2 separate regions of the Homo sapiens genome follow, and region 1 is reported to be linked to region 2. Evidence: microRNA targets listed by miRTarBase, many of them from high-throughput screens and not tested one by one. Region 2 holds a microRNA gene; the other region holds the end of a gene's coding sequence.
What was found. The annotated mature microRNA hsa-miR-8052 reads CGGGACUGUAGAGGGCAUGAGC and lies in region 2 at 7,127-7,148, shown strand. An mRNA with a match to its seed (bases 2 to 7 or 8) in the 3' UTR can be bound and repressed. Matches are read on the target gene's strand: a 7mer-m8 pairs with bases 2 to 8, a 7mer-A1 pairs with bases 2 to 7 and ends in A, and an 8mer does both.

Region 1: the mRNA of TOR4A is a reported target of hsa-miR-8052. Seed matches in the 3' UTR shown: 7mer-m8 at 3,038-3,044, 8mer at 3,482-3,489, 7mer-m8 at 3,530-3,536 and 7mer-m8 at 4,331-4,337.

The regions. Positions count from the first base shown.
Region 1 is chr9:137,277,658-137,287,818 of GRCh38, forward strand. TOR4A (torsin family 4 member A) reads left to right here and starts at 69. Exons shown (of 2, transcript NM_017723.3): 1 at 69-250; 2 at 996-4,984. The coding sequence starts at 1,033. The coding sequence ends at 2,304. RefSeq lists silencers at 1-289, 570-629, 3,295-3,534, 9,113-9,212 and an enhancer at 9,513-9,562.
Region 2 is chr11:130,659,619-130,669,779 of GRCh38, forward strand. It overlaps MIR8052 (microRNA 8052), which reads left to right and starts at 7,117; the gene lies at 7,117-7,185.

The sequences.
Region 1 (10,161 bases), not on the chromosome of region 2:
CCGCCTGGGCCGCACCCCCTGACTCACTTCCTTTGCATAGAAGCGGAAACCTCCCCAGAGCTTCCTCTACTCCGGCCGGCCGCTCCCTGGGGACCCACAGGTGTCGCTGCCCCTCCAGGCCGAAGCTGGCCCAGGAGGCCCCTGGCCCACCCCCTCGCCCTGGGAGGCGCATTTCCTGCTTGGAGTCTCAGGCCCCAGCGTCTGGCACAGGCAGGGGCCTGCGGAGCTGAGGGCAGTGGACCAGCTGCAGGTAGGGGGTGGGTTGGGGCCCAGGGCCCAGTTCCTGCCAGTCAGTGGCTCTCTTGCTCCGACCGGCCTCTTCTTTCTGTCCATCTTTTCGTTTCACCTCCACTAGTCTCCGGGGGGCTCCCTGCACTGCTCAGCTCGTTCACTGGAGGGGTGTTGGGAGGACCCCAGTTTTGGAGTCGGGGCTGGGAGGCCTGGGTTGAGCCTGGGGACGGGGCCCGGGCCTATTCTCAAAATCATAAGTTCCAGCCAGACCCCCGCCAAGTGTTCTGGAGCGTGTGGGGGCGTCTCTGAACTCCTGGGCGCTCAGGCCTCTGCTTCCCGCGGCCCCTCCTTGGGAGACGGCCCAGTCCAGTGGGAGCCGCGGGCGGGGGCAGGGTCCGGGGGTGACTGTTCACCCCAGTGGGCGCCTGGGCGGCCACTGACTCCTTCGACGACTCCTCCAGGAAGCCGGGGCGGCCACCAGATAAGCCTCTACCCCGCCACTTCCTCAAGGCCCGCGGCCGTTTATGGGAAGACCCGAGAGATTTGCATCGGGGCCCTGCGGAGGGGCGGAGGGGCGGAGGGGCGGAGGGGTCGCTTGCCGGTCTGAGGGGCGAGGCCGCGACCAGGCCCCTGGCCCTGGGGCAGCCCGGGCCGCACCCCACGGGACTCCCAGGGGGTAAGATCACTCCGGGGACCGGTTCCGGCGGCCCGCGGGAAAGGGCAGTGGCGGGAGTCCAGAGACCCTCCCCGTCTTCCCGTTGCAGGGAGGGCGACCTGTATGCGGAGCGCCGTTCCTGCGACATGGACCGCGGCCAGCCCAGCCTGGAGCCTGCTGCCGCGGCCCCCCGAGCCTCGGGCCGGTGCGTGATCGCGCCCGTGCGCGCTGTGCTCCGCCTGCGCCGCCGGGTGTGTGTCCTACGCAAACGGCGCCTCCTGCAGCCGGGTGGGGGGCCCGACGTCGGGACCGGGGCGCCCAGGCCGGGCTGCAGCCCCCGGGCACCGCGCGCGGACCTGGACCAGCCAAAGTTCTTCACCTTCGACAGCCCCGCGGAGCTACCCTCCAGGACGCCACGCAAGAAGCGCCGGCGCAGCCGCCTGGTGCTTTACCCGGAGACCTCGCGCAAGTATCGGCCGCGCGTGGAGCACAGGAGCCGCGCGCAGCGCTGCCTTCTGCTGCTAGTCGCCATCGTGGGCTTCCAAGTTCTCAACGCTATCGAGAACCTGGACGATAACGCGCAGCGCTATGACCTCGACGGGCTGGAGAAAGCGCTGCAGCGCGCGGTGTTCGGCCAGCCCGCTGCCGTATCGCGCATCGTGGCGCTGATGCGGGACTACCTGGCCACGCATGTGCACAGTCGTCCGCTCCTCCTGGCGCTGCACGGGCCCAGTGGCGTGGGCAAGAGCCACGTGGGCCGCCTGCTGGCGCGCCACTTCCGCTCGGTGCTGGAGGACAGCGCGCTCGTGCTGCAATACCATGCGCGGCACCACTGCCCCGAGGCGCGCGCCGCACAGGACTGCCGCGAGGAGCTGGCGCGGCGCGTGGCCGACGTGGTGGCGCGGGCCGAAGCGGAGGAGAAGACCCCACTCTTGGTGCTGGACGACGTGGAGCTCATGCCGCGGCCGCTGCTGGACGAGCTGCACGGCTTCCTGCAGCCGCAGCGCTCCCACCACTTCCACAACGCCATCTACGTGCTCCTCAGTGGCGCGGGTGGCGCCGAGGTCACGCGCTTCGTGCTGCAGAACGCGTCCCGCGCGCTGCCCCTGCGCCCCGACGGCTTCCGCAGTGCCGAGGCCGCAGCGGCGCAGGCGGAAGAAGACCTGCGCGCCAGCCTGCTGGCTGTGCTGTCCCGGGAGCATCCGCTGTGGCAGGCCGCGGCCATCGTGCCGTTTCTGCTGCTGGACAAGCGGGATGTGGTCAGCTGCTTCCGGGACGAGATGGCGGGTGAGGGCTTCTTTCCTGACCAGGCCCGCGCGGAGAACCTGGCCGCGCAGCTCAGCTTCTACCGCGTGGCTGGCCGCGAGTTTGCCGTCACCGGCTGCAAGCAGGTGGTGGCCACGGTGAACCTCCTGTAGTGGAGGCGCAGGACGGGACGTTTGGGTTGATGGCGGCAGTAGGAGGGCGACCAGGGACCTTGTGGGCTGGTGCAGGCCCCTGAGGTTTCTAGTGAATTTGTGGCTGCCCGGCTGGTGGGTGCGGATCAGCTTGGAGCTCTGCTTCCAGGTCCACACCCGCCTCAGAGTCCGGAGTCTGTCCCTGGGGGCGGCAGGACAGCAGCCACCTCCCTCCCAAACTTGCCCATTGCCCTGCTGGGCGTCCCAGGCATGGTCTGGTGCGTTCTCCCTGTGGCCCCAAGAGGTGGGTTCCCATGGTACAAGGATGATCTCAGGGCCAACAATTCCCGGGGTCACACAGCTGGGACGTGACCCCGCCTCTTGGGGGTGGTCGCGTGTTGCTCAGTGCTGAAGTGGGGTTCTCATTCCGGCCCCCCTGGAGATGACCCCGGAGGAGGCCACAGCCAACCATGACAGTGCTGGGGCTCTGGCTGCCTTCTCCACCCACCCCACCCCTCACTCAGGTCGTGTTTTCAGGAGCTCAAGGCTGGAGTGTCTTGACAGTAAGGGGAGGGGAGCGGAGGCGGAGGCGCCTCAGGCAGCCTCTCCCCCTCCTTCCTGGACCCCCCAACCCCGGGCCCGCCAGCCCTGGCTTGGGCTTACTGGGTGACCGAGAGCCCGCGGGGCAAGCGGGAGGTGCCTAGGCCTCTCCCCATCCCCCTCTTCTCCGCACGTGGGACCCTTAGCCCGTGGCCAGTCCCCTGGTCACCACGATTGCGCGACCTCCCTTTCCCTGGGGCCTTTTGTGCCCCGAGTTCCGCCCACCCGCACCCTCTGCGCAGAGCGCCCTCCCCACGCCAGTCGACCCCACACCCCACACTCCCCACGCGCCGCCTCCCGGAAGCCCTCCTGGACGCCTCCCGTGGATGGGCCCACCGCGCCCACGGGGGCTTTAGGGGAAGGTGCTTTGGGCGTTTTTTGCGCCATGTCTCCTCGGGGCCGGCGGTTGCCTCGGGACGGTTCTCGCCTCCTCCCACAGCCCCGGTGTCTGGGACGCACCCGGCAGCCCCGCTGCTGCCGCCTTGTGGCGCGCCCGGCCCAGCCGGTGGCTTCTGTGGTCGCCGGGGGCTGAGCGCGCGGCTGGGCCCTGAGTCCCCCAGGCCGCCCCGATCCTCTGTCCCCGCCGCCGGCCCCGCTGCAGTCCCAACCCGGGCCTGCCCGGGAGGAGCGCAGGGGCGGCGATGACCAGTCCCGAAAGGGGCTCAGAGGGCAGCGAGGAGGTTTCACGCCGGTGCGGGGCGCCGTCGAGGTGGGGGCACCGCGAAGGTGGAGGCGGGGCCGCGCCGGAAGCCCCGAGTCGAGCGCACACGGCGGGCGCCCCTGGCAAGTGGGACTCCTCCGGCCCCGAGGCCTGAACTCAGCCCGGAGACCGCGCCCACCAGCGCCGGTGTCCCCGGAGGGGCCCCGCTAGTTCCCTGAGCAGAGGTCCTGCGGCTTCCCGGAGGGTGTCCTGTTCTCTCCCCCGCCTCGCATCCATTCTCGCCCTGGTGGTTGGTGTCTGTGGTCGGGGGCGAGGGCCGTCTAGTGGAGACGGGGATTCAGGCCGCTTGAAAGTCTGGGATCTCTGGGCGGATGGCAGCGGCTCCGCGGAGCTCGAGCTCGGCGCGCAGGTCCTGGGCCCAGGGCGGGAGCGCTAGCGAGAGGGCTGCCCCGTCCTGCCCAGAGGGTCCTGAGGACTCCCGCTGCTCCTGGAGTCTTGGGGAGGGGTCCGGCTCCACGGGGTGGGGGTGGGGGCTACCAGGAAACCTTTGCCTCCTGGGGCTGTGCAGGACCGGCTAGCCAGCGCTGGGAACCAGGGCTGAGTTCAGCCCAGCTCTGTCCACCCCAACCCCAGGGCTAGGGGAAGGAGCTGGGAGAAGGAGCCCCACCTCTCCCAGGCGAGTATCTGTCCCAGGAGCCCACACAGAGGGACACCCAGCTCTGGTCTGGCCTTCGTGTTGGCTTCAAGGTGGTAACAGAGAGAGCTGCAGAGTGGGGGTGTGTTTGCCAGTCCCTGCATGGGTGAATGTTGGGGTGCCCACTGCTCCCCAGGCAGGACCCCCAGGACTGTCAGCTCCCCTTCCCACAGAGCACCCACCTGGAGGTGTCACCTGCCGGCAAGCGTGGGCCATTCATCCACCTGTCAGTCAACAACACCCGCTGAGCATCGGCTTGTATCAAAAGGTCCAGACCTAAGGGGAAATTTTATCTCTTTCTTTCTTTCTTTCTTTTTTTTTTGACACAGAGTTTTGCTCTTGTTGCCCAGGCTGGAGTGCAATGACACGATCTCGGTTCACTGCAACCTCTGCCTCCTGGGTTCAAGCGATTCTCCTGCCTCAGCCTCCCGAGTAGCTGGGATTACAGGCGCCCGCCATCACGCCCGGGTAATTTTTTTGTATTGTTGGTAGAGACGGTGATTCACTATGTTGGCCAGGCTAGTCACGAACTCCTGACCTCGTGATCCGCCCACCTCGGCCTCCCAAAGTGCTGGGATTACAGGTGTGAGCCACCGTGCCCGGCCTCTTTTTATTTATTCCTAAAATATTACCTTGAGGCCAAATTCTGCGCTTAAGGAGAATGTGCACCAAGTGCTGGGGTGGGGGCTGGTAATAAACGAGGCCACAAATCATGCTTGTTAATAAATTGTGTGGTTCAAATCTGACGACCTACTGTTTGGTTTGTTTCTTGTCTGTCTGGTCTGTTAATAATTGAGGAGGATGCTGAAATCTTTCCCTAATTGTAGATTTATGGTAGATTTATCCATTTCTCTCTAAGCTTCTATTTAATAGGACATGCTGATCGAGAGTTTTGTTTTTTGTTTTGTTTTGAGAAACTTCTGAATGGGGAAGTGGTGTGGACCTGGAGGCTGATGGAAGGATTGGGGCTCACATGCAGTCTGCAGCTCAAACATCCGGGCTTTCCAGGAAATCCATAAATAACTAAAGTATTTTCTTTAATTGCCCTGGACAGGTGCTGAGGGCAGATGACCCAGGCTGGACATGCGGGAAGTTGCCAGCTAACCAGATGATCCCAAATGTCATAGCTGCTCTCCCTCATATGTGCAGAAACTGTTTCTGTGCAGTTGTCTCTGAGTTATTCTTTGACATCTGCCATGTGTCATTACGTAGTAACCCTCGTGATCTGTGTGTGCACATCATAATGACTTTTTTTTTTTTTTTTGAGACAAGGTCTCGCTCTGTCACCCAGGCTGGAGTGCAGTGGTGTGATCTCCACTCACTGCAGCCTCCACCTCCTGGGTTCAAGTAATTCTCCTGCCTCAGCCTCCTGAGTAGCTGGAATTACAGACGCCCACCACCACACCCAGCTAATTTTTGTATTTTTAGTAGGGACTCAGTTTCACTATGTTGGCCAGGCTGGTCTCGAACTCCTGACCTCAGGTGATCTACCCATCTCAGCCTCCCAAAATGCTGGCATTACAGTTGTGAGCCAACGTGCCTGGCTTCTCTTTTCTTTTAATAGAGACAGGTTCTCTCTGTCATTCAGGCTGGAATGCAATGGCGTGATTGTGGCTCACTACAGCCTCGACCTCCTGGGCTCAAGCGATTCTCCCACCTCGGCCTTCCAAAGTGCTGGGATTCCAGGCGTGAGCCGCCGCGCCTGGCCATTCTCTGCATTTTTCAAGGTCAGCAACACTGCATCCTTCCGACCACAGCCAGGAAGAGTTTTCTGCTTTTAAAGACCCATGTGACTAGATGTGTCCACCTGGGCCAGGCGCAGTGGCTCACGCCTATAATCCCAGCACTTTGGGAGGCCAAGGCGGGCAGATCACCTGAGGTCAGGAGTTCAAGACCAGCCTGGCCAACATGGTGGAACCCTGTCTCTACTAAAAATACAAAAATCAGTCGGATGTGGTGTCGAGTTCCTGTCATCCCAGCTACTTGGGGGGCTGAGGTAGGAGAATCGCTTGAATCCAGGAGGTGGAGCTTGCAGTGAGCCAAGACCCTGCGACTGCACTCCAGCCTGGACGACAGAGTGAGACTATGTCTCAAAAAAGATAAAATAAATAAGTAAATGTGTCCACCTGGGTAATAACGGATTATCTTCCCATCCAAGGTCCACACTTACCTACATCTGCAAAGTCCCTGAGTCAGTTTTGGTAATTTGTGTCTTTCTTGGAACTTCTAGGAATTTGTCCATTTCATCTAAATTGTCTAATTTTATTGATTTTTTTTTTTTGAGACAGTCTTGCTCTATCGCCCAGGCTGGAGTGCAGTGGCTCGATCTTGGCTCACTGCAACCTCTGCCTCCTGGGTTCAAGGGATTCTCCTGCTGTAGCCTCCCTAGTACCTGGGACTACAGGTGTGTGCCACCATGCCCAGCTAATTTTTTGTTTTGTTTTGTTTTGAGACGGAGTTTCACTCTTGTTGTCTAGGCTGGAGTGCAATGGTGCGATGATCTCGGCTCATTGCAACTTCCACCTCCTGGGTTCAAGCAATTCTCCTGCCTCAGTCTCCCGAGTAGCTGGGATTGCAGGCACGCACCAACATGCTCAGCTAATTTTTGTATTTTTAGTAGAGACAGGGTTATACCATATTGGACAGGCTGGTCTCAAACTCCCCACTTACAGTGATCCTCCAGCCTAGACCTCCCAAAGTGCTGGGATTACAGGCGTGAGCCACCATGCCTGGCCCTAGGCAAACTTTTTGAAATAAAGCTTTTTTTTTTTTTTTTGGTTTGTTTGTTTGAGACAGGGTCTCACTCTGTCACCTAGGCTGGAGGGCAGTGGTGCAATCTCAGCTAGTGGTGCAATCTTGGCTCACTGCAGCCTTAAACTCCCAGGTTCAAGCGATTCTCCTGCCTTGGCCTCCTGAGTAGCTGGGACCAGAGGCGTGTGCCACCATGTCCTGGTAATTTTTGTTTTTTTTTTTTTTTTTGAGACAGAGTCTCGCTCTGTTGCCCAGGCTGGAGTGCAGTGGCGCGATCTCTGCTCACTGCAAGCTCCGCCTCCTGGGTTCATGCCATTCTCCTGCCTCAGCCTCCCAAGTAGCTGGGACTACAGGCGCCCATCACCACGCCTGGCTAGTTTTTTGCATTTTTTTTTTTTGAGATGGAGTCTTGCTCTGTCATCCAGGCTGGAAGTGCAGTGGCGCAATCTTGGCTCACTGCAAGCTCCGCCTCCCGGGTTCTCGCCATTCTGCCTCAGCCTCCTTAGTAGCTGGGATTACAGGCGCCTGCCACCATGACTGGCTAATTTTTTTTTTTGCATTTTTTTAGTAGAGACGGGGTTTCACCATGTTAGCCAGGATGGTCTCGATCTCCTGACCTCATGATCCGCCCTCCTCGGCCTCCCAAAGTGCTGGGATTACAGGCATGAGCCACCGTGTCCGGCCCCACATTGGGTAGTTTCTATTGATCTAGTCTCAAATTGCATGGCGAGCACATACAATTCCAGCTGCCCGGGAGGCTGAGGCAGGAGAATCACTTGAATCCAGGAGGCAGAGGTTGCAGTGAGCCGAGATTGAGCCATTGCACTCCAGCCTGGGAGACAGAGCGAGACTTATCTCAAAAAAAAAAAAAAAAAATCTGTTGCTCAACCTCTTTAGTGGATTTCTCATTTCAGTTTTTGTGCTTTTTAACTCCAAACTTTCCATTTCCATTTGGTTCTTTTTTTTTTTGTCTTTCAATTCTTTATTATATATAAAAAATTGTTTTCCATCTTGAAAGTTTTTTTTTTAAATTTTTTTTGAGAGATGAATCTCAATCTGTTTCCCAGGTTGGAGTGCAGTGGTGCAATCTCAGATCACGGCAACCTCTGCCTCCTGGGTTCAGGCAATTCTCCTGCCTCAGCCTCCTGAGTAGCTGGGATTACAGGCATGTGCCACCACGCCCAGCTAATTTTTGTAGTTTTAGTAGAGACAGGATTTCTCCATGTTGGCCAGGCTGGTCTCAAACTCCTGATCTCAGGTGATCCACCACCTTGGCCTCCCAAAGTGCTGGGATTACAGGTGTGAGCCACTGCACCCGGCCTAATTTTTGTATTTTTTTAGTAGAGACGGGGTTTCACTATATGTTGGCCAGGCTGGTCTCGAACTCCTGAGATCAAGCAATCCTCTTGCCTCGGCCTCTCAAAGTGCTGGGATTACAGGCGTGAGCCACCGCACCTGGCTTCACCTTGAAAGTTTTAAAGCCAATGTATCTTCTCTTTCTGAAGATTTGAAACATTTTGTAGACAGAATGGAAAGCAATGAAAATCTACAAAAATGTTTTGAATACCCAAAAGAAAAAGCATCAGATTTGTTTCTGGCAATACCTGTGGTTGAGATGAAGGAATCCATAGCAGAGGTTTCTTCAGAGCCTCAGGCTTGGGATCAGTTTTTGTTGCACTATCAGGTTGAGTGTCTGCGATTACATGTTCAGAGGATCAACCAAAGTCAGAATTTCTGAAGTTGAAGTGAAACTACAGTATACTTTTTTTTTTCCAGACAGAGTTTCACTCGGTTGCCCAGGCTGGAGTGTAATGGCATGATCATAGCACATTGCTCAAGCACATAGCAACAGGCTCAAGCAATCCTCCTGCCTCAGCCTCCCGAGTAGCTGGGACTACAGGTGCATGTCACCACGCCCAGCTAATTTTGTTCATTTTTTGTACAGATGAGGTTTCACTATGTTGCCCAAGCTAGTCTCAAACTCCTGGGCTCAAGGGATCCTCCTGCTTTGGCTTCTCAAAGTGCTGGGACTACAGGCTTGAGCCACCACACCTGGCCCAGACTGTGTTCTTTTTTTTTTTTTTTTTGAGACGGAGTCTCGCTCTGTCGCCCAGGCTGGAGTGCAGTGGTGCGATCTCGGCTCACTGTAACCGCCTTCTGAGTTCACACTATTCTCCTGTCTCAGCCTTCCAAGTAGCTGAGATTGCAGCATGTGCCACCACACCTGGCTAACTTTGTATTTTTAGTAGAGATGGGGTTTCACCATGTTGGTCAGGCTGGTCTTGAACTCCTGACCTCAGGTGATCCGCCTGCCTTGGCCTCCCAAAGTGCTGAGATTACAGGCGTGAGCCACTGCACCTGACCCAGGAGAAGGTCTTTGACTGTGTGGAGCTGGTGATGGATGAGCTACAAGGAGCAGTCCCTGCCATGGGCCTTCGTGGACTGAGGCCGTCAGAGCCTCCAGCAGGTGTCAGTGCAGCTCAGGGAGAGACACCCACTCAGCACCTCCCAAGAGATGCAGACTCATGTCCAGGACCTCGTGGAGTTTCTGGAGGCTGGAAAGGGAACGGGGATGGAAGGCGCTCCAGCACGTGGCCATTGCCCGGGGGTGTGAGCTGGTGATTTCTGCCCTTCTGCCTCTGAGGATGAGCGTAGAGCGTCGTAGTTTTTCTTATTTTTTTTTTCAAGACGGAGTTTCGCTCTTGTTGCCCAGACTGGAGTGCAGTGGCGTGATCTCGGCTCACTGCAACCTCTGCCTCCCGGGTTCAAGTGATGCTTCTGCTTCAGCCTCCCGAGTAGCTTACCTGGCTAACTTTTGTAGTTTTAGTAGAGACAGGGTTTCATCATGTTGCCCAGGCTGGTCTCCAACTCTTGACCTCAGGTGATCCACCTGTGTCGGCCTCCCAAAGTGCTGGGATTACAGGTGTAAGCCACCGAGCCCAGCCTCTTTTCTTTTTTTAAAATTTTTATTTTTTTGAGACAGGGTCTTACTCTGTCACCCAGGCTAGAGTACAGTGGTAGAGTCATAGCTCACTGCAGCCTTGCACTCCTGGGCTCAAGTGATCCTCCCAGCTCAGCATCCCAAGCAGCTGGGGCCACAGGTGTGCACCACCATGCTTGCTTAATTTTTGTATTTTTTATAGAAATGGGGCTTTGCCACATTGCCCAGGCT
Region 2 (10,161 bases):
GCCCTGTATCTATTTTAAAAATGGAATTTGTAGCTAAAAGTCTCACGAAGAACACTACAGAGGCCAGGTGTGGTGGCTCACATCTGTAATCCTAACACTTCGGGATGCTAAGGTAGGAGGATCTCTTGAGGCCAGGAGTTTGAGACCAGCCTGCTCAACATAGCGAGACCCTGTCTCTACAAAAATAAAAAATAAATTAGCTGGGGTTGGTGGTGGTGTGTGGCTGTAGGCCCAGCAACTCGTGAGTCTGAGGCAGGAGGATTGCTTAAGCACGGGGGTTCAAGGCTACACTGAGCTATGATCTCACCACTGGACTCCAGACTGGGTGACAGAGCAAGACCCTGTCTCCCTTAAAAAACAAATAAACAAACAAACAAACAAATTCTTATTATTTATTAGCCTTATATCCTGCAAAGCACAAAATAGGTTTGAAAATAAACTATATTTTTATGTTGTAGCAATAGACAATCAAAATTAAAATAAAAACACCATTTACAATAAAATCAAAATACAAAATATTTTGGGATAAATACGGCAAATGATGTGCAAGACATGTACTCTGAAAACACAAGGCAATGCTGAGAGAAAATTAAAGAATACTCAAATGTGCCATGTATCTTGTTTATAGGTTGGGAGAGTCAGCATTGTTAAGATGTTAATTCTCCCTATATTGGTCTATAAATTCAATGCAACCCAATCAAAATTCCAGCAGGCTTTTGTATAGAAAATTTCAAGCTGATTTAAGAATTCATCTGGTAATATAAAGGACCTAGAATAGTCAAAACAACTTTGAAGAAGAACAACTTTGAAATAAGCCTTGAAGACACATTAAAGATTATTATAAAGTTAAAACGTAGCATTGAACTCAAGGGGGACAAATAGGCTAAAGGAATGTAATAGAGTCTAGAAATAGATCCACACATACATAGCATATGCAGTCAGTTGATTTCTAAATTTTATTTTATTATTATTATTTTTTGAGATTGAGTCTCACTCTGTCGCCCAGGCTGGGGTGCAATGGCGTGATCTTGGCTCACTGCAACCTTTGCCTCTCAGGTTCAAGAGATTCTCCTGCCCCAGCCTCCCTAGTAGCTGGGATTACAGGTGTGCACCACCACACCCATCTACTTTTTGTATTTTTAGTAGAGAAAGAGTTTCACCATGTTGGCCAGGCTGGTCTCAAATTCCTGACCACAGGTGATCTGCCAGCCTTGGCCTCTCAAAGTGCTGGGATTACAGGCATGAGCCACAGCACCTGGCCTAGATTTTATTTATTAATATATCTTTTTTTAAAGAGAATTTTTAGGCTTACAGAAACATTGAGCAGATAGTGCAGAGTTCCCATAAACCTCTGTACTACTTTCCGCTCACCACCCTACCAGTTTCCCCTGTTATTAACATCTTGCCTCAGTGTGGTTCATTTGCTACCTCTGGTGAACCTACACTGATACATTATTATTTACTGAAGCCCATAGTTTATACTAGGCTTCACTCTTAGTGTTGTATGTTCTATGGATTTTGACAAATAAATAATATTATGTATCCACAGTTACAATATCTTACAGAATACTTTCACTACCCTAAACATCCCTTGTGTCCCACCTATTCATCTCACTCTCCCTCCCCCTGAAAACCTCCCCTCCCCTGGCAATTACTTATTTATTTATTTATTTTTTACCGCCTTTACAGTTTTGCTTTTCCCAGAATGTTATATAATTGGAGTCATACAACAGATAGCCCTCTTAGAATGGATGCTTTCCCTTAGAAATATACATTTAAGGTTTCATCCATGTCTTTTCCTAGCTTGACAGCTCATTTCTTTTTAGTGCGAATAGATGTGCCATGGTTTGTTTATCCGTCCGCCTACTGAAGGGCATCTTCCTGTTTCTGGCAATTAGAAATGAAGCTGTGATAAACGATGGTGTGCAGGAGCCCTACTGATATGGTGGTAATATGTTGGGGGGAAGGGAAACTTTCTATTATCCTGTGACTGGATGTCAGTCATTGAGAGTCTGTGCTGCTGAGGTGTGACATTCAGGGGTGCTTCTCAACTTTCCCTTTCCCGTTTGGAGAAACAAGAAGGCTAGAGGAGGCTGGAGCTATTTCCCTTACCCCACATAGACAGCCACAGGGAGCTGGTGTTGGGGACATCCCTTCCCACAGGCCCATCAGGATCTGATAAAACCCCCAGTTATGCCCCAGTAGAAGAGGTTCCTTTGGGGGCAGGCCTTTGTTAAGGGGAAGAGATCACCCTGAACATATTTCAAAATGATTGCTCCTCTCCCCTTGCTGGAAACAAGAGGAGATTTTCTCTAATTTTCACTCTGAGATCTGGGTGGGGCTCCTGGACGTAAAACTTATGAAAGTGTGGGGCTCCCCTAAGAATGGGCTGCTAGGACTTTTTAGTCCATAGCTTGGTCTCCAGCAATGAGTCAATTATTGTTTAGGTGTTCCTACCACAGCTGGGGCTTCTGCTCCTGTAAGCTCTCATTCTGTGCATCTACCTTTCTCTCAGTTTTTGGGGTAGTAGCATGGCCTGTGACCTTTCTCTGATTGATCAAAGAAGAGTTGTTGATTTTCAGTTTGTTCAGTATTTTCCTTGTGAGGCTGGAAGTGATGGCAAGCTCTTTACAAGTGGAAGTTGGAAGTTGTCAATTGCTTTTGAACAATGATGCAAAGCCAGTCCATCCAGTGAAGAATGGATGGTCTTTAAACAAATGGTGCTGGAACAATGGGACACACATATTAAAAAAAAAATAAAGAAAGAACTTTGATCCGTACCTTGTACCACATGCAAAATTAACTCAAAATGGATCAAATTGATCCTAGAACCAAGCATAAAGCCCAACACCATAAAACATCTAGGAAAAAAGTTAGGAGACAGATCTTTACAAACTTAGGTTAGGCACAGATTTTTTAGATACAACATCAAAAGCATGATCCAGGAAATAAAAATCATTAAGTTGGACTTCATCAAAATTAAGAATGCCACCATCAGGGAAAAAATACTTGCAAATTACACAAAAGATTTGTATCCTAAATATAAAATCTCTATAATAAGGAAACAGACAATCCAATTGAAAAATGGGCAAAAGATTTGAACAGATGTTTTACCAAAGAGATACACAGATGGCAAATAAACATATGAAAAGATGTTTGACATCATTTTTATTAGAGAAATGAAAATACAAATTAAAACCATAACGAGATACAACTATAACCCTATTAGAATGTCTGACTTTAAAATCTCTGACCCCTACCCAGTGTATATAAGGATGTGGAGGAACTATTTCCCACACAGTATTGGTGAAAATGTAAAATATGCAGCCCCTTTGGAAACAGTTTGGCAGTTTCTTCAAAAGTGAAACATGGCCAGGCGCGGTGGCTCATGCCTGTAATCCCAGCACTTTGGGAGGCCGAGGCGGTTGGATCACCTGAGATCAGCAGTTTGAGACCAGCCTGGCCAACATGGTGAGACCCCGTCTCTACTAAAAATACAAAAATTAGCCGGGTGTGGTGGCATGTGCCTGTAATCCCAGCTACTCGGGAGGCTGAGGTAGGAGAATCGCTTGAACCCAGGACGCAGAGAGGTTGCAGTGAGCCAGGATCGCGCCATTGCACTCCAGCCTGGGCAACAAGCGACATTCCGTCTCGGGGACAAAAAACCAAACACCGCATGTTCTCACTCATAGGCGGGAATTGAACAATGAGATCACATGGACACAGGAAGGGGAACATCACACACCGGGGCCTGTTGTGGGGTGGGGGAAGGGGGGAGGGATAGCATTAGGAGATATACCTAATGTTAAATGACGAGTTAATGGGTGCAGCACACCAGCATGGCACATGTATACATATGTAACAAACCTGCACGTTGTGCGCAGGTACCCTGAAACTTAAAGTATAATTAAAAAAAAAGAAAAAATTGAAACATACGGGTATCATATGACACAGTCATGGCTATCTAATGATATCTCATTATAGCTTAAATTTATAGTCGTTTGTGAAGTGAAAAAAAAATTTAACTACTGGAAGGAAAAAATGAAAGAAAGGAGTAACAGATATTCATTCACACATCAGGGCCGGTCGCGGGGTGCGGGGCAGGGGGAGGGACAGCATTAGGAGAAATACCTAATGTAAATGACTAGTTGATGTGTGCAGCAAACCAACATGGCACATGTATACCTATGTAACAAACCTGCACGTTGTGTCCAGTTACCCTAGAACTTAAAGTATAATAAAAATAAATTAAAAAAAATCATTTGGCCATCCTCTTCCCCTAAGTTGAGGAAGGATCTTGTAAAAGTCCTCCAAGGATAAGTTGAAAGGATGTTCTATGGGATAGAGCCTAAAGAATATTTGCCTGCTAGGTTGTGTTTTAACAATGCAATTGCAATGTATACAGAAGTCTAAAAAGTAAACCCTGCTTTTAAAGATCATTGATATGTATATAAATCATTTTCTAAAATAAATGGGGACTTGAACTTTCCTACCTGCAATCTCCATTCCAAGATATGGTTAGAACAGCATTGTCCAAAGTGTATTCTCCACAATTCTTCTGCTCATAGGTGTTATTAAAAAAAGGTGAAATCTAGTAAAACTGGCTCGATGAGAAGTTTGAATATAAATAATCATGAGAAAACCTAGGGGAAGCACGTATTATGCAAGAAAATATACATATTCTAACCATGGGCTCTCTCTGTTTTTAGAGGCATTTTCTCAGACTAGTGTTCCATGAAATAATCTTTAGCGATGCCAACCTCAATGCAATTTGTATTCTGCAAATGCAATTTAAAACTGAGACCAGAAATCAATCAGACGTCAGGGAATGGTTAAGCAGGGTTCTCTACTCAGGATAATAATGATAAAAATGCTTACCTTTTCATGTTATTTCTTAACTTTATTAATCAGCTAGAAGAGCAGGGGTCTTGGGTGTTTTGTCAGCAGTCAGGGTCAGGCATGGAAACCTCTCTATGTGATCTGAGAGGGGGTGTCTTGGAGAGAAGCCAAGTGAGAAAGCCAGGTAGCCTGCCCATGAGAAAGCCTCAGGCAGAGAGGAAGGAGCTGAATGTGTGTGCCCGTGGGAGGAAACTGCATTTCTCAACATTTTTCAAAGATGCTATTGCCTTTCTACTATTGGACTTAGAAATTGCAATTGTTCTACATCAGTAGGAGCAAAGGTGAGAGGAAAAACTTAGAGGAGCTCCCTTGGTCAATGAGTGCAGAGGTTTGCAGCTCTTTATGGAGACGAGAGTAGGGGCAACTATGAAAGGTGGCCCTATATGAACATGCCCTTTCCTTCACTTTGTACCCCTTTTCCTGAGTGGAGGAGGCTGTGCTCTCCCTGGACTTACCCAAAAGAAGGCCTTGCTTGGCTCTGAGTTTCTACTTCTCAAGTAGAAAGCAGAGTCTGTTCTGTTTCTGGCCACTGTTCTCTCAATAAACCATATGCTATGGTTTGATGGGATTTTGCAGGGGTCCAGCATTTCTTTCCCTGTAGATTTTTTTTTTTTTTTTTTTTTTGAGACGGAATCTCACTCCGTCACCCAGGCTGGAGTGCAGTGGCGTGATCTCGGCTCACTGCAGCCTCTGTCTCCCGGGTTCAAGCCATTCTTCTGCGTCAGCCTCCTGAGTAGCTGGGATTATAGGTGCGTGCCAACATGCCCAGCTAATTTTTGTATTTTGAGTAGAGATGGGGTTTTGCCATGTTGGCCAGGCTGGTCTCTAACTCCTGAGCTCAAGTGATCCCGTCTCGGCCTCCCAAAGTGCTGGGATTACAGGCGTGAGCCACCTCCCCCAGCCCTTTGAGTAGATTCTAATAGCCCATCCTCTAATGCTTAGGCTATCAAATCGACAAGACAAGATGCAAGAACTCTACCTCATTGCTTACATAGGAGGATTTTTGATTTGGTCCACAGCACACACTGTGTTTGCTGGTTAAGTCCGTCTCAAAACAGGTTTTTTTTCCACCTATGGCGTCAGGTAGGGATATCATCCAATTAGATCCCAAGCCCTCAGGACAGGGGCTCTTCAAAGTTGCCATTCAGTAAGTTCTGGAAGATAGCTGAGATGTCACATGGGCCAAATGGCTTTCTTGTGCATTCAAAATGAGTTGAGCACATTTAGAAGCCCATCCTCCACTCATCATTTTTCTAGAGACAAAGTTGTGGGTGCCTCTGAGCATGAATTTCATAAAGGCTCATCCTGCACAGAGCTGGTTCAAGAGATTGTAGGAAGAGGTGGTGGTAAAGAATGATGACTATCTTGAGATCTGAATATGCCTGGAAGAGGCAACTTCTTTTGTCCCTCCAACTTAAAAAAAATTACGAAGTTCACTGGGGCTTATACAGGGAGAAGGAGGATCTGCGGAGGTCCCCGCTCCAGTGTGATTTTAATATATTGGTGTAGGTGCAGAGCTTGTGGAATGCGTCAATCTCACAGCCATACACATCATGTGAGGATATGTAGTTCTTCCTCCTCTTCCTGTCCCTCCTCGTCTTCCTTTTCCTCCCCCTCCTCCTCCTCCTCTTCCTTTTCCTCTTTTTCTTTCTCTTTCTCTTCTTCCTCCTCCTTCTTCATCTGAAACTATTCTTATAGGCAATCTGATGGTAGACATCTCATGGGAAACAGTGGACAGTGTTATTAAAGAGACTTATGGGTCATAGCCATCTGTGTGATTAGGGATACCATGGCTGGCGAATAATGGCTAATGGAAGCTTCTCCAGCCCTCACCTTGTGGCTTGAAGCAGATTCTTCCTCAACAGTGGGTATAAATGCCTAGTTTATTTTCTGGAGTCCCCTTGGACTGGGTGGGTGGGGATCCAGCCAAGCTAAATCAGGACTGGAACTATGACTTCTTTAAGTTTTACTACACTGATATAGAGTCAGAAACTAATGATCCTGACCTTCTCTGGGATGCAGAAAACCCTTCCTGTGGCCAACAAATTAGGTACAATGCAGGCAGGAGCAGCTTCCCTGGCAATTGGGTTGTATCTCATTGGATATGGCAACTTTGGATAGAGTGGCCTATTATTATTCTGTGGGACAGGCACAACTGGGCATCTGTGGGTAATGAAGGAGGGTGCCAGCCGTAGGAGATCCCTTGTCTCCCTGGTCTGGAGGGCTGCGGGACTGTAGAGGGCATGAGCTCAGGAGCTCAGGCCAGCTCATGGTGCAAGGCCTCTGGAAGCCTTCTCAAAATGGTATCTGATTTAATTAAGACTCTGGCTGAGAATCCAGAGTGCCAGGGCTTGGTGGGCCACACATCCTCTCTTGCAGCCTGTGTGTGGCTTTTCTGGCCACCTCCAGGCTGTCAGGGAGTGCTGTTAGACTTTTAGCCGCAGCCTGCCATCTGGAGGAAAGGAATTGGCCACTTTTCTGCATTTCCTGCCATAAATGGGAAAAAGTATGACAGAATTTTGAGGTTTTTTTTCTACCCTCATGGGGTAGAATGTTTTAATTTTGAATACTTGCACCTCATTCTACAAAGAATCTGAGGTGGCTTATACAAATGCACACAATACAAATGAGTGGAAATAAATAATTGAATGAGTCAGAGTGATGGGAAATACAGTGAGTAAAAGGAAGCCAAGGGTAATTTATTACCCCAAAATGCACACTCCATGGTCCTTGGTGTGTCCTGTGGTTGGGCCATATATTTCCACCTAGGGAGGAAGTTAAAGTCCTAAAATTTTGGTAAAAGCAATTTTAACAAAAGAGTAAACTCATGCAGTCCTTAAATCCAGAAGTCTGTCTTAATTAGGATGAAAAAAATTGTAACTCTAAGTGCGATTTTTTTCATTTTTTGTATTAATTTTAGTATGCTATTTGAGACTATTTATAATATGTGTAAGTTACAAAATATAGTATGATGAACATTTCTGAACCCAGCAGTCAAGCAAAGGACAAGTCCATTCCCAGTAACTCGTATCCACCCTCACTTCTGCTCCTAACCTCCTTCTGTGTCCTGCTTTTCTTTTCCGCACAGAGAGAACCACTATCCTGAATTTTAGAATTATTCTTTTGATTTTTTGTTTTGTTTTATCCCAAATGCATGCATATGTAAATAATATTTTGCCCAGTTTTGCTTATTTTTAGGTTTATTAAAATAATATCTATTAGGTTGATGCAAACGTAATGAGGTTTTTGCAATTACGTTCGCACCAACTGAATAAATCAAAGTCTTCTGGGTTCTTTCCTTTTCCATTCAACATCATGTTTCTAAGATTCCTTAATGTTCTCACACATGTGTGCAATTCATTTTTTTCTACTGCTTTATTATGATACTTTTCATGGATACATTGCCCCTTATCCATTCTCTGCTGTTGACTCTTTAGGTTGCCTTTAGTATTGTACTATTATGAACAAAGGTCCTGAAGTCACTTTTGAATATGTCTCCTGGTGCACATATTCAAGAGTTTCTCTAGGGTGGATACCTAGGAGTAGAATTATGTGGTATGCTTCACAAGATAATGCTGAAATGTTTTCCAAAGCAATTATACAATCTCACCAGTAAAGTATAAACCTTTTCAAATCCTTATTTGACATTGTCAGATATTAATTTTTGTCAATCTAGTGGCATAAAAACTATCTCATTGTGGAAATGCAATTGCGTACCCTTGACTAGTAGGGCAGTGAAGAATCTTTTCATGCTTTTTTTTATGGTTTTCTTCTTGTGTGAAATATTTTAAAAATGTATTTTGCACATTTTATTGGGTTTATTGTCATTTTCTTATTGATTCATGACAATCTTTTAGATATCTTCTCTTAGGCCAACGTTTCATTCTGTATCTCAGGCAGGCCATTTTATTTATTGTAATGGCTTGAATTTCTTTCTGTGTATTGATTACTCACAAATCTAAGTATTCAGCCCAAGATGTTCTTCTGAGCATCACACACATGAATCCAACCAGACACTCAACACCTTTATGTGAATGTCTCACAAGATTGTGAGGCTCAATATGTCCAAAATTGAGTTCAGCATCTTTCCACCCAGGCTGAATTCCTCCATTTTGTCTTCTATCTTAGAGGAATCACCACCAAAAACTCAGGTATCCAAGCTACAAACTTAAGTGTGGTTTTTGACTCTAGCTTCTCCTTTATATGTGATGTCCAATCAATAACCAGGTTCTATGGATAGTAATTTCTAAATGTCCCTTGAGTCTATTCTTGTCTCTGAATCCCCAATGCTGTTCCTTTATTCAATAATCACAGGCACCCCAAATTGCTTCAGGACCCTCCTAGTTGGACTTCTGGTCTGCAGTCAGCATACTGGAGCCGTGGAGATAGCTTTTTAAAACATGCCATGTGGTCAAGTCACTCCCTTGTTTAAAACATTTTAATGGTTCCCCAGGGGGTGGAGGCTGCAGTGAGTTGAGATCACGCCACTGCACTCTAGCTTGGGTGACAGAGCAAGACTCCATCTCAAAAAAAAAAAGTTTTAGTGGTTCCTATTACTTACCAAGGTCCAAACACATCATGGCTTAAAAGACCCTTCATAGTCTGACCCCAGGTCATCTCTCATTCCTCATCCACTGTCATGTCCTCTGCGTGCTTTGTGCACCAGTCGGACCCAGATGTGGCAGAAGCTGCAGATATGGCAGAAGCTGCAGATATGGCAGAAGCTGTCCTACCTGAAAAGATTAATAAAGAAATGTCAAGTAAAAAAACCACATACCACCTGTTCTCACTTTTAAGGGAGCACTAAGCATTAGGTACAGTGGAAATCAAGACGGGAACAATAGACACCGGGGAGTCCAAAAGAAGGGAGGGAGAGGGGCAGGAGTTGAAAAACTACCTGCTGTGCACTGTGCTCCCAAACCTCGGCCTCACACAATCTATCCACATAACACACCTGAATCTAAAACTAAAAAAATAAAATTTGGTTGGGTGCGATGGCTCACACCTATAATCTCAGCACTTTGGGAGGCCAAGGTGGGTGGATCCCCTGAGGTCAGGAGCTCGAGACCAGCCTGATCAACGTGGGGAAACCCCGTCTCTACTAAAAATACAAAAGTTAGCCAGGTGTGGTGGTGCGTGTCTGTAATCCCGGCTACTCCGGAGGCTGAGGCAGGAGAATCACTTGAGCCCGGGAGGCTGAGGTTGCAGTGAGCCGAGATCGCACCACTGCACTCCAGCCTGGGTGACAGAGCCAGACTCCGT